Linked DNA regions of Homo sapiens: regions 1, 3 and 4 are each reported to be linked to region 2. The links are microRNA targets in miRTarBase. Many come from high-throughput screens and were not tested one by one. Region 2 holds a microRNA gene; each other region holds the end of a gene's coding sequence.
Evidence for each region. Region 2 holds the annotated microRNA hsa-miR-2278 (GAGAGCAGUGUGUGUUGCCUGG, at 1,055-1,076, shown strand). A microRNA usually pairs through its seed, bases 2 to 8, with sites in the 3' UTR of a target mRNA and lowers its output. Matches are read on the target gene's strand: a 7mer-m8 pairs with bases 2 to 8, a 7mer-A1 pairs with bases 2 to 7 and ends in A, and an 8mer does both.

Region 1 (3,075 bases), not on the chromosome of region 2:
AATTCCTAGGATACCTCAGTCCTCCATGTTGGTATGCTTTTCTTTTCAACAATGTGGAAAATGCAGTTTACCAAGAAGCTTTTTTGGTTTTCCTTTTAAGGTATTACTTCAAAAAAGCAAGCGATGAGTTTGCCTGTGGAGCGGTGTTTGAGGAGATCTGGGAGGATGAGACGGTGCTCCCGATGTATGAAGGCCGGATTCTGGGCAAAGTGGAGCGGATCGATTGAGCCCTGGGGTCTGGCTTTGGTGAACTGTTGGAGCCCGAAGCTCTTGTGAACTGTCTTGGCTGTGAGCAACTGCGACAAAACATTTTGAAGGAAAATTAAACCAATGAAGAAGACAAAGTCTAAGGAAGAATCGGCCAGTGGGCCTTCGGGAGGGCGGGGGGAGGTTGATTTTCATGATTCATGAGCTGGGTACTGACTGAGATAAGAAAAGCCTGAACTATTTATTAAAAACATGACCACTCTTGGCTATTGAAGATGCTGCCTGTATTTGAGAGACTGCCATACATAATATATGACTTCCTAGGGATCTGAAATCCATAAACTAAGAGAAACTGTGTATAGCTTACCTGAACAGGAATCCTTACTGATATTTATAGAACAGTTGATTTCCCCCATCCCCAGTTTATGGATATGCTGCTTTAAACTTGGAAGGGGGAGACAGGAAGTTTTAATTGTTCTGACTAAACTTAGGAGTTGAGCTAGGAGTGCGTTCATGGTTTCTTCACTAACAGAGGAATTATGCTTTGCACTACGTCCCTCCAAGTGAAGACAGACTGTTTTAGACAGACTTTTTAAAATGGTGCCCTACCATTGACACATGCAGAAATTGGTGCGTTTTGTTTTTTTTTTTCCTATGCTGCTCTGTTTTGTCTTAAAGGTCTTGAGGGTTGACCATGTTGCGTCATCATCAACATTTTGGGGGTTGTGTTGGATGGGATGATCTGTTGCAGAGGGAGAGGCAGGGAACCCTGCTCCTTCGGGCCCCAGGTTGATCCTGTGACTGAGGCTCCCCCTCATGTAGCCTCCCCAGGCCCAGGGCCCTGAGGCCTGCTAGAATCACTGCCGCTGTGCTTTCGTGGAAATGACAGTTCCTTGTTTTTTTTGTTTCTGTTTTTGTTTTACATTAGTCATTGGACCACAGCCATTCAGGAACTACCCCCTGCCCCACAAAGAAATGAACAGTTGTAGGGAGACCCAGCAGCACCTTTCCTCCACACACCTTCATTTTGATGTTCGGGTTTTTGTGTTAAGTTAATCTGTACATTCTGTTTGCCATTGTTACTTGTACTATACATCTGTATATAGTGTACGGCAAAAGAGTATTAATCCACTATCTCTAGTGCTTGACTTTAAATCAGTACAGTACCTGTACCTGCACGGTCACCCGCTCCGTGTGTCGCCCTATATTGAGGGCTCAAGCTTTCCCTTGTTTTTTGAAAGGGGTTTATGTATAAATATATTTTATGCCTTTTTATTACAAGTCTTGTACTCAATGACTTTTGTCATGACATTTTGTTCTACTTATACTGTAAATTATGCATTATAAAGAGTTCATTTAAGGAAAATTACTTGGTACAATAATTATTGTAATTAAGAGATGTAGCCTTTATTAAAATTTTATATTTTTCAAAACACTGGCCTCGTCTTTGAATCCCCAGGGTGGGAACAGGGCCGAGGGGCCCTTTTGTGTGTAGACATCTGTGCTTGATTTCCTACCTTGCCCAAGCCCGTCTCTGACCTTGAGCCCTGACCTGATCTGGACCCACCTGGAGGTTTTGTAAAGCCATTTATTCAAATCACCTGGCTACTGGCTGAGGCTTTTCTTGCCTTGGAGCAGGCTGTAGATGACATCTCCTTTGGGGGTCCTCTTCCCTGTAACACCTCCATTCAGCCTCTTCCTCCTGGGCAGATTGTCTCCAGTCCGGCCAGGTAGGTGCAGGGGACCAGGGGATGAGAGGAGGCCCTCCCAGGAGTTTCAACAGGTGTCTCCGACATGAAAGCCGTTCAGCAGATGGTTTCATAGACCTGGAATGTCCACGTGGGGCCAATGGACTTAGAGATCAAAGCTAGCCAGGCACCCTCCCCATTCTGGGAGCTGATCAACAAGGCTGACTATTAATCCTATCAGTATTTTATCGTGAGCCATCAGGCTCAGGGCCGGTCAGGTGTCGGGAACATAGCAAGGAGGTGGTTCAGGAGGAGGCGACACAGGCAGCTTCTGCACCGCTCGGTGGACAGGTGTGCTTATGTGGCCAAGGACCTCGGCAGGCAGTTGCCCGCTCAACAAACGTGCCCTCCCTGTATCCTGAGCACTTGGCCTGCATGCCAGGCCATACTTTAGATCTGGGAAAGCAGGTCTTTTTAGTGGAGTCCTAGGAAGAACCCTTTTTAAAAACAGAGGATCTGTAACTGCAGTTGGACTTGACTTCTTGTGTGCTGAGTTTTCATGAAATGAACTCGGTGGTCTGCAGTGGATCTGCTTGGCTTGTTCTTCCTGCTGCCAACTGGCGTCAGGCCGGCAGCATAGAGAAAGGCCAGGGTTCTGGCCATGCGGGGTAGGGATGGACTCGAACCCAGTAGCCTCGGAGTGGTGGCAGTAGTAGGAGTTGTCAAGGCTGCTGGGAGAGTCCTGAGTTACCCTCTGAGAAGGCGAGGATGTGAGGGCATCTGGCAAGAGGCTGGAGGAGCTCTGATGCCTTGAACTTGTCCCTAACCATGCAGGTGCTGTGCCCTCCCCTCCTGGCTGGAATGGGGGTTCATACCAGGGTGTCCAACACTTTCCGAATTGTAAACTTCTTTCCAAGACAAAAGGATGAAGAGATGCAACCTATTGTGTGTGGTGAAGATTGGGGTTTGTGGATGGCTTTTCATCTCTATCTTCAGGCCTCTTGATTGAGGAGAGTGATGAGGTTGGGGCTTGGGCCTCAGACAAACTGGACTGAAGGCCCAGCACCACCACCCTCTGGGTGCCATGAGCGGGTTTCTGGCATCTTCTAAGGTGCATTTGTGAGAGAGAACTGGACTAGTTGATCACTCATGTTTCTATCTCCTGTTTTCATTCTTTTTT
Region 2 (3,075 bases):
GGTGCTTTTCTTTGGGAATGAGCCAGCTGCAGTTTTTGCCTTTTTTCATAGATGTGCAATCTTAGAACATCCTATTGAAAGCGCAGTTGGAAAGGGGTGGATGGACAAAGCCAAGAACTCACTCGACAAACATGTATCAACGGACAGGTGTGATGAATGCTGATGATGCTGTGGCCATGAGGAAGTATAGACCTTTAGCCTAAATCTAAATTGGGAGTTTCTAAAGTTGGTTTCAAGGAAGACTAGTTTTATGGAATGTTAATAATGTGGGAAAAGGAACTGTAGGTTAATTAGTTTAGGAAATAAATGGATTAAATAAACTTAAAAGAGATTCTTTACTGGAGGGCTTCTAAGAAAGCCTTTAATATTCTTATGATCCTGATTTAATATCCTGGTATATCTGTGCATCTTGAAGACAGAGACAGGATAAGCAGTATTCCCCCAACTGTTGTGTCGAGGGAGCCCTTTTTACAGTGAGCATTTCATGGAACCACTGTGGTTTCAAAAAAACCACCTCCTCAAAACACACTTTGGGAGATGATTCTATTCAGAAATATCTGGGAGTCCATGATACAGCTGGAGATGGAATTCGCCTTTCATTCTGTCAGTGGTGAGTGAGGACCTGACCTGCATGCGTCAGGCCCTGGGCAAGGGCTTTGCTTTACAGCAGTGAGGAAGCACAGGTCCTGCCCTCTTGGGACTCACAGTTTGGTGCAGGAGGCCCCCATGCTTTTCTGTTTATAGACCTCTTTTTGAGCAATTACCCAATTCATATATCTATATTTATTTATTTATAAGTTATATGCATTTAGTACAATGTTAATATATTAGGTACACTATAAAACACATACACAAAATAGAAAATGTAAAAGGATGAGAAAAAAACAATTATGAAAGTAAATTCTGTCACTTTTATCCCAAAGAATTGGCACGTGCCCTGGGCTCCCTTCAGCTGCCTGGGCCCTACCCTGGAGACTGACTCAGTGAATTGAGCCGCAGTCTTGGTATCTGGAAGGCTAACAGGTCTTCCCAGCTGATTGTGCTGCAGGTGTTGGAGAGCAGTGTGTGTTGCCTGGGGACTGTGTGGACTGGTATCACCCAGACAGCTTGCACTGACTCCAGACCCTGCCGTCATGTCACAGGTAAGAAGGTCAGGAAGAGGCTGGAGCGTGCCGGTGAATGGGTGAGAAAGCTCCCTGGTGAGGCTTCCTGCTTTTCTGTTGCTCAGAAGGAGGCCGTGCTTCCTAGGAACTGCATCCAGTCACAGGCGGGGACTTTGGGCAAGTCACTGGGCCTCCCTGGCCTAATTTTCTTCTCTGGAAAAGTAAGGGGGTGATTTAGAATAACCCGCAGAATGTCTTAGGGCCCCTACATTTGATTTAATCAGGGTTTTTTTGTTTTTTTTTTTTTGAGACAGAGTCTCGCTCTGTCACCCAGGCTGTAGTGCAGTGGCGCAATCTCGGATCATTGCATACTCTACCTCCCAGGTTCAAGCGATTCTCCTGCCTCAGCCTCCCGAGTAGATGAGATTACAGGTGCGCGCCACCACACCTGGCTCGTTTTTGTATTTTTAATAGAGATGAGGTTTCACCATGTTGGCCAAGCTGGTCTTGAACTCCTCACCTCAAATGATCCACCCACCTCAGCCCCCCAAAGTGCTGGGATTACAGGCGTCAGCCACTGCGCCTGGCCTTTAATCAGGTTTTTTATTTCAACAAGGCATGGGGGTGATTCAGTTTCGTTCAGCAATTTAAAATACATGTATATTTTCTTTTTGATGTAAGAGCTAGTTAGATCATGAGGCTTGGATTTTCTTGGACTCTGTGGGCACCTAGGCAGTAGTAGGTGTTTAAATTTTAGGCCCCCAAGCAAAAGTTTCAGAAGGGGGCCTCTTTAACCCTTGTTAATTGCAAAATAAACAGATCTCAAGGGCAGGGGCCCCTTCTTTTCATAATAACTGCCTCTGTTTTGTGTGTCATCAGTGAAAAGCATCATTTTCAAATACTCCATCAGGAGTGGGTTCCATCACTGAAGGCCTTCTTCCTTCAGCCCATCAAAGGACCTCCTCCTTTGACCCCTCAGAGTCAGTGGCTAACCTGCCCCCTACCCCTGTCACATGTCTTTAGCTTCCAGATATCTCCATTTGCAAGCTAATAAGTTGCACATACATATGTTTGAACAGTTGTCAGGCTTGTCTGCTGCTCAAACTGTGTTTTAGTTTAAAACAACAACAACAGAGAACTCAGAGCGGGGGAATGGATGAAGACATTTCAGTTGTGCCTGCAGGTGGTGTTGTTTTGACCTTGACAGTCAGTTTTAAATGACTTGTCAAGTACCAATGTGTGCTTCTGGGCACACCCACCTGGAAGATATTATGTCCCCTAGGCTTTATATGCCCCAGCAGGCAGGCATGAGGTCCCTGGATTTTGTTTTCATTGATGGAAGGTTAATGCATGCATGGCAGAACTTTACTGAGAGGGGCGCAGCTACAAACCCTGTTTTCATTTAATTCTGATTTCTCTTCTCCCTTGGCCTTTCCCTCCCTGCCCCCAGACCTCTTCCGTCTGGGCTCTCTCCACTCCCCATCAGCAATCCCTTCTCTACCACAGCTGCCCCCCACCACCACTTTGGCTTCAAACCATTTATCCTGGCTTTGATATCTCCTTGCAGAGCTGTAAGCAACCAGGAGATGCTGGGTCCCAGAGCTCAGCAGGGTGCACTGCCTGGTAGGGGACTGGGCCCCAGTCTCCAGGCCACTGCAGGAAATTGCACCCAGAAAGCCTGCCCAGGCCCCTGTGCCTGTCCCGGTAACCACTCAGGTGCAGCCCCCAGAGGCGGCATCTCCTCAGCTTAAGTGTTGTCTGGGGAGAACTTCTTAGGATTATTCTAACCTTTCCGATGGTCCAGGTTCATCTCTCTGAATTTTACCTGTTTAAACTTGGAGTGTCTCCCGTACCCTCAAAGGCCACACATGCTTGTGCTGGCAAGTTGGGGTGAGGAGAATAAATGGACAGATGAAAGGAACCTATTGGATTCATCCTCCTGCCTACCAACACTTCGATAGTTTCAAGTTAT
Region 3 (3,075 bases), not on the chromosome of region 2:
AGCACTCACAAAAAACGCATATACATGTCAACGTTGTGAGCTCATCAGAGTTTTAGAAATCAACTTCCACAGTGAAAGCCAATGTAGGCAGAAGGTTTATAACAGAATCCCCAGGCAGAGAAGTGAATTTCAGAGCATTTCAGGGAGGAAACTCCTCTGCACATGTCAGCATGTTTAACATCGATGATGGCAGGTTGTGTGCTGGCAGCCAGAGTCTGAGGCCACTGTCCAAAGTTCAGCGTCAGTGGTTCCTGTTGCTGGTCATGGAGAGAGACAACTGGAAAGTCAGGTGTCTTCACGCTCTAACTAGAGCACAGGGATGGACCATAGCCATGCTAACCTTTGTTAACCCCTAGGACTTGTCAAGGTGTTTAAGCAGTAGGAATGAGGAAACAACGTTCTGATTCAAGTAAATGTAACTAGAAGTAAAAATTTAAAAACTTGTAAGCTCACTAAAGTGAAGCTCTGCAGACACGGTTCATATCCTGGTGGCTGAGGGCACATAACCAAGAACTTACACAAGCACCCCCAAGCCACAAAGATCCCAGCTGCTATGGTTGAGGGGTAACCTGCCAGCACTGGAGCCAAGTGTTGGAGCTACTGATCCAAAGTTAGCTCACTTCTGCAGAGGCTCTGAACCAGAGCAAAGAAATGGCCCAGTGCAAGCCCAGTGTGAGCCAAGAGTTGGCCATGTAATCAGTTCTGGCCCAACCAGGTTTGAAAGGTAGAGGAGCAGTACTGGGTTTTGGAGAGGGAAGGTTGGAACAAAGCCCTTTGCAGGCTATAAGCTTCATTTACTAGGCCAGGTCTTTCTGTGTGAATGTGCTTTGACTTTGGTCTGTTTATATGCATGGGGTAAACGTGGGACAGCCTCTGCAGCTTCACTGCCTGCCGGACGTGGGTCCAGGGCTGCCAGCTCTGGGTCCTTGGTCTGTTGGGGGTCGCAAACTGAAATGGCCATGGGGCTATCTGGGCAGGCAACACAGATGAGTGGGGATGGGGGACCCCTTCTGTACAGAGCAGCCTCTACTTAGTGGCCGCTGACAGGCTGCCCCATGAGGACGCAGGCCCAACATTACCTAATTTAATCTTCTAGAAGTCAGAATTCTGAATTTTTATGTCAACTCTCGACTTTTTTTTTTTTTTTGAGACAGAGTCTTGCTCTGTCGCCCAGGCTGGAGTGCAGTGGCGCGATCTCGGCTCACTGCAAGCTCCGTCCCCCGGGTTCACGCCATTCTCCTGCCTCAGCCTCCCAAGTAGCTGGGACTGCAGGCGCCCACCACCACGCCCGGCTAATTTTTTTATTTTTAGTGAGACGGGGTTTCACTGTGTTAGCCAGGATGTTCTCGATTTCCTGACCTTGTGATCCGCCCGCGTCGGCCTCCCAAAGTGCTGGGATTACAGGCGTGAGCCACCGCGCCCAGCAACTCTCGACTTTTAAATGTTAGCGGCCCAAAGTGCTGGGATTACAGGCGTGAGCCACCGCGCCCAGCAACTCTCGACTTTTAAATGTTAGCGGCAGACCAAACCAAACAAACACAGCTGCAGGACGGGTCTGGTACGCAGGGCTCCCACTTTGCAGTCTCTGATCTGTAGGCCGAACAACGGCAAGAACTGTCTGGATCCCACAAACATCCCCAGCCAAACTTCTGAGGCCTTAAGGGGAGGAGGCCTTGCACACCTGACTGGAGAACAGGCCTAAGAACTGCAGTGTTCTGTTTCCTGCTCTGCTTTAGAAAAGAGAGGAGACAGAAAACCAGAGGGTCTTTTAATTGGAAGCAAGGGTGGCCCTTCAGAGTCTCAGTTAAGAGTCAAGGAAAGATGAGATCACTTGGGTAGCTCAAGAAGGGAAAAGGATTTATTAGACCATTTCCAGGACAGGGACCCAGGGGCAGTGGCTGGGTTCAGTGTTCTCACGCTCAGAGGAAGAAAAGGCAGTGGTGAACACCCGCCTGACTGCCTTACCCTGATCTAAACGACACCATCTCCTCCCCCAAGGAAGACACAGCCCTGGATGTGAACCTAGGAGGGTGGGAATGGCTTATGTCACTCGGTCTTTGAGGCAGAGCTTGGGCTGGGGTTGCAGGGGCATCAGCCAATCTGCTCTCAAGGAGCAAAACTTGGGCGTAAAAGGAACGGGCAGTGGGGCTAGCCGGCTGTCTGGAGGTCTGGGTGACCTGGCAGCACGGCTGCTTCTCCCCCGCCACCCCGCCCCACTCCTTGACACTTCCAGGTGATTTTATCTTTATAAATAAGATGAAAATCCAAGCAGCATTAATTTAGGGGAACAAAAGATGGAAAAAAAAGGGGGGGAGGCAGAAGGAGCTGATGAGCATCCAGGAGAGGAGGAAGTAGGAAGAGCAGTGTCCACTGTGTGCCCCAGGGCAGTGGAGTGTCTCTGTGGCTGCAAGGCCCTTCCTTCTGGCTCCCTGGCAGACGGCCAGACAGCAGAGGGAACTCTGTATTGACTGGGACAAGCCCTGGAGCCCTGTCTGGCTGTTGACATGGGGAGTGCCTGGATTTGCCCCAATCAACCTCCCACCTTCACCATTGCCCAAGTGAAGCAGCTTTTAACTCTCTTGCCCAAAGTCCTCTGAGAATTTCTTCACTTTCAGGAGGTCGTCTGCATTCACCGTGGGCCGGGTGGTGGCCAGAGACCGCAGCATGTCCGACTGTGAAGGCAACAGTATGTGCCTGAGCAGGAGCCAGGCTCCAGGTCCCCAACCTCCCCTCAGCACACAACAGGCGCAGCTGAGGGTGGGAAGAGGTTTGCCTTCAAGGCCACCCCAGAGGCCTGCTTGAATCTGCCTATGGCAGGGACCCTCTTCCCTCTCGAGGCAGCTCAGATGGGCCTCCTCCTGGTCTGAGAATCTAAGCTCCATCATCTCATAACTCCCCTTACGAACTTGCTTTCTTTTTTTTTTTTTTTTTTTTTGGAGACGGAGTCTGTCACCCAGGCTGGAGTGCAGTGGCATGATCTCGGCTCACCGCAACCTCCACCTCCTCGGTTCAAGTGACTCTCCTGCCTCAGCCTCCCAAATAGCTGGGACTACAGGCACGTGCCACCACACATGG
Region 4 (3,067 bases), not on the chromosome of region 2:
CTGCAGTTGCAAACTCCCGGGTTCAAGCCATCCTCCCACCCCAGCCTCCTGAGTAGTTAGGACTACAGGTGCATATCACAAAGCCTGGCTATAATTTTTAAATTTTTTATAGAGATGGGGTCTCTCTGTGTTGCCCAGGTTGGTCTGAAACTCCTGGCCTCAAGTGATCCTCCCACCTCTGCCTCCCAAAGTGCTGGGATTACAGGTGTGCGTCACTGCACCCAGCCTGACTGTCCCCTTTCTGTTTGAAACAGTGTTGAGAACCACCCTTGCTTTAGGTGCCCGACTCTTTTCAGCCCCATGGCGTGGTTGGAGGCCTGCCCTAGGCGGGTGTGGGGAGAGGGCTGCTCGGTGGAGAATCCCACTAAAAGCGCAGACCCAGGCCTGGGGTGGGGTTTTCTGTCTTGCAGATGAAGGACTCGCTCATCAACCTTCAGAACGGCATCAGGTCCCGCGACTACACGTCGGAAAGTGAAGAAAAGAGGAATCGCTATCATTGACAAGGCAGGAACAGGGTGGCTGCAAGAGGCCTGTGCAATACATGTACATAGACCATATAAATATATATATATAAATATATATATATACAGAATATAAATATATATATTATATACAGATTTTAAAAAAGAGATAATGCCTATGTACCAGGGAGAAGGAGCGGGCCCTCCCGCGCCCTGTGCTGGCCGGAGCAGCGTTTTCTTATGGTGGAGCAGCTGAGGAGGGCAGGAACCGCCTCTCAGCACCGACCTCCCCTGATCTCCCTCCTCCCACCCTCTGTTCCCCACCCCTTCCCTTGCTGGCCATTCTTGGCTTTTAGAAGGGAAATGTTGAGCCAAAGTTATGCCTGCGAAGACCCTAAGGTCTCAAAAAGAAGTCTTAAGACGGCATTGCTTAAGGTGCTTCATTCCCTAATCCCCTTTTGATTTGTTTCCAAAATAAAAGAGAATCTTTTCTTCCCTACCCCAGGCTTCCCCAGGCATTCTCTTGGGAACACAGAAGCATCAAGGGAGCCCAGTCTAAACTCCTAGGGTTGGCCGCCCACTTGATCCAGACCGTACTGAGTGTCAGATGGAGAGGATGCTTGGAAAGCTAGGAAGGCTGCATTGTGTGGTGGCAGGCTCCCGAGACTCGTGTTCTGAAGGATACTCTCCTCCATCACCCCTGCACCTTCCTCCGACCTGTGTAGGGTGTGGACCCAGTAAGGGCTGGGAATTTCTTACTTTCCCACCCGCTTTCTCTCTGGTCTTCTCCCAGGCTGGATCTGGGCGAAGTGTCACTTTTTAGTGCCTAAAGTCCTATTGTTTCTCTGTGCCCTAAGAGCACATTGTTTATTAGCCAGGGTGGAGCGTTTTCGACCTTATTAAACCTCTTTTAGTGCTTCTAAGCAAGTCAGGTCTGTGGCTCTGAGGCCTTCACTTAGAGCTGTCAGTGTGATTTCCAGGATGAGTCAGGGTGTGCTGGGCCCTCCAGGATTTGAGAGAGGGAGAGAAGGCCCTTGCCACGTCCGGGGTGCAGGGTCTACCCACAGAACACTGTGAGTGGTGAGCACCAAGATGGGTTGCCAGCCTCATTTGCTCTTTGAACGAACCAACATTAGCCAGTGGAGACGACTGTCTGAGACAGTTTGCACATAGAAAAAGCATCTGAGCCACTGGAGGGAAGGATTTGGCAAAGGTGCATGTGTTTGGGCAGGAAAAGGCCAAGTGAAATCTATGCCCTACGGGAGCCATTCCCAATCCTGAGTTTCTCAGACTTGGCAATGGGGGTTCTGGCGGGGGTTGGAGTACAAATCCTGCTCTGGTCTCTGGCCCCACAGAGGTGTAAGATCATTAAGAAGTAGAAGGCACTAGCTTCAAAGAGTGAGACATTCAGGGCCTTTTCAGCATTGGCCCACTAGCACCATGCATTTATCTGAATTCACGGGGCCCTCTGGGCACATTCATCATCCCTCATACACTAACTACTGTTTCTTCATGTAATGACCAAAAGAGTCCCACCAGCTCCAGGCAGAGCTTGTGGAGATTCATGAAAGAGTCATAGCCAGTTTGGCATGCAGAGGTCTTCAGTCTTGCTTATTCTTCTCCTGGGCTTCTTGACACAGGGGCAGAAGAAACCCCAGATGTCCCAGATGTCCCAGAACATCAGCCCAAAAGACAGAAGATTTTATCACTCATCTACCCCAAAGATAAAGTTGTATTTTTTTCTTAGAATGGCCTTTAATTCCCTGTGGCAATTACAGTTTTTGACTTTTCCATGTGAGAATAAGGCCTTGGTATTTCCCTAAGGGCAGGATCAGAAAACAGGAAGGTCCATGCCCAGGTGATCCTCCAAGGGAGGAGGGTGAGGAGGCTCCAGGGCATGAGCTAGAGTGGATATTCCTCCCCTAGAAGAGGAGATGGGAGGAAATGCAGTTTCATGTAATCCCTGTGAAGAGTGCCTATGCCCACAGCCCAGTGGGTCCTTGTTCAGTTCTTGTCCAGGCCTTTGGGTGAGGGACACTGGTAGGGATCAAGGCTCATGGGCTCTGAGCCAAAGAAGGAGGCATGGTGCAGACTGCTGGAAATCTCCCCCTTGGCACAGCCAGAAGCCAAAACTATTCCCAGAAAGTTTTGAATGCAAAACTTGTAGATTCCTGAATTTATTCCATACATAATTATTTCCTTAAGTTATTTAATTATTAAAGGTGCCACGGTGGGACCTTTGGGATGACTTAAAAAGGGTTCTTTGTTGGGAGTCAAGTGACAGAGCAGACCTGGCCGCAGGGAGTTGTTCTGCTTCTGCTTTACCTCTCAGGACCATTCCCAGGAGGAAAAGGTGGCAGAGAGGGCAGTACTGAGTATGTCAGAAGAGCCCTCCTGGTTTTTTAGCGATTTGAACCCACTAGACAATGTGTGCACATAGGGAATGTCCTTTAAGAATCATGGATCTCTTGTAGGCTCTCTGTGTTCCAATAATTTTTTGACTATCATACCAGGAAAAAACCAACAACTCTATTCATTCCCAAACAAAATCTCTTCCCCCTTAGTCAATAGCTTGCGAAAGACATCTTAACTCACCCTTGCAGATA

Region 1: the mRNA of AXIN2 is a reported target of hsa-miR-2278. Seed matches in the 3' UTR shown: 7mer-m8 at 865-871.
Region 3: the mRNA of VPS4A is a reported target of hsa-miR-2278. Seed matches in the 3' UTR shown: 7mer-m8 at 2,358-2,364, 7mer-m8 at 1,017-1,023 and 7mer-A1 at 308-314.
Region 4: the mRNA of GRAMD1B is a reported target of hsa-miR-2278. Seed matches in the 3' UTR shown: 7mer-m8 at 1,793-1,799.

What each region holds. Positions count from the first base shown.
Region 1 is chr17:65,527,128-65,530,202 of GRCh38, reverse strand. AXIN2 (axin 2) reads left to right here. Exons shown (of 11, transcript NM_004655.4): 11 at 101-1,640. The coding sequence ends at 227. Among named protein-coding and RNA genes, the nearest start is that of AXIN2, 33 kb to the left of the region's middle. RefSeq lists enhancers at 1-175, 1,998-2,292.
Region 2 is chr9:94,808,923-94,811,997 of GRCh38, forward strand. MIR2278 (microRNA 2278) reads left to right here and starts at 1,040; the gene lies at 1,040-1,135. All of the region lies in intron 5 of AOPEP (aminopeptidase O (putative)), which reads left to right.
Region 3 is chr16:69,323,805-69,326,879 of GRCh38, reverse strand. It overlaps VPS4A (vacuolar protein sorting 4 homolog A), which reads right to left. Exons shown (of 11, transcript NM_013245.3): 11 at 1-2,672. The coding sequence ends at 2,571. COG8 (component of oligomeric golgi complex 8) reads left to right here. Exons shown (of 6, transcript NM_032382.5): 6 at 1-452. Among named protein-coding and RNA genes, the nearest start is that of PDF, 5.2 kb to the left of the region's middle.
Region 4 is chr11:123,622,096-123,625,162 of GRCh38, forward strand. GRAMD1B (GRAM domain containing 1B) reads left to right here. Exons shown (of 20, transcript NM_001387025.1): 20 at 411-3,067. The coding sequence ends at 500. Among named protein-coding and RNA genes, the nearest start is that of SCN3B, 31 kb to the right of the region's middle.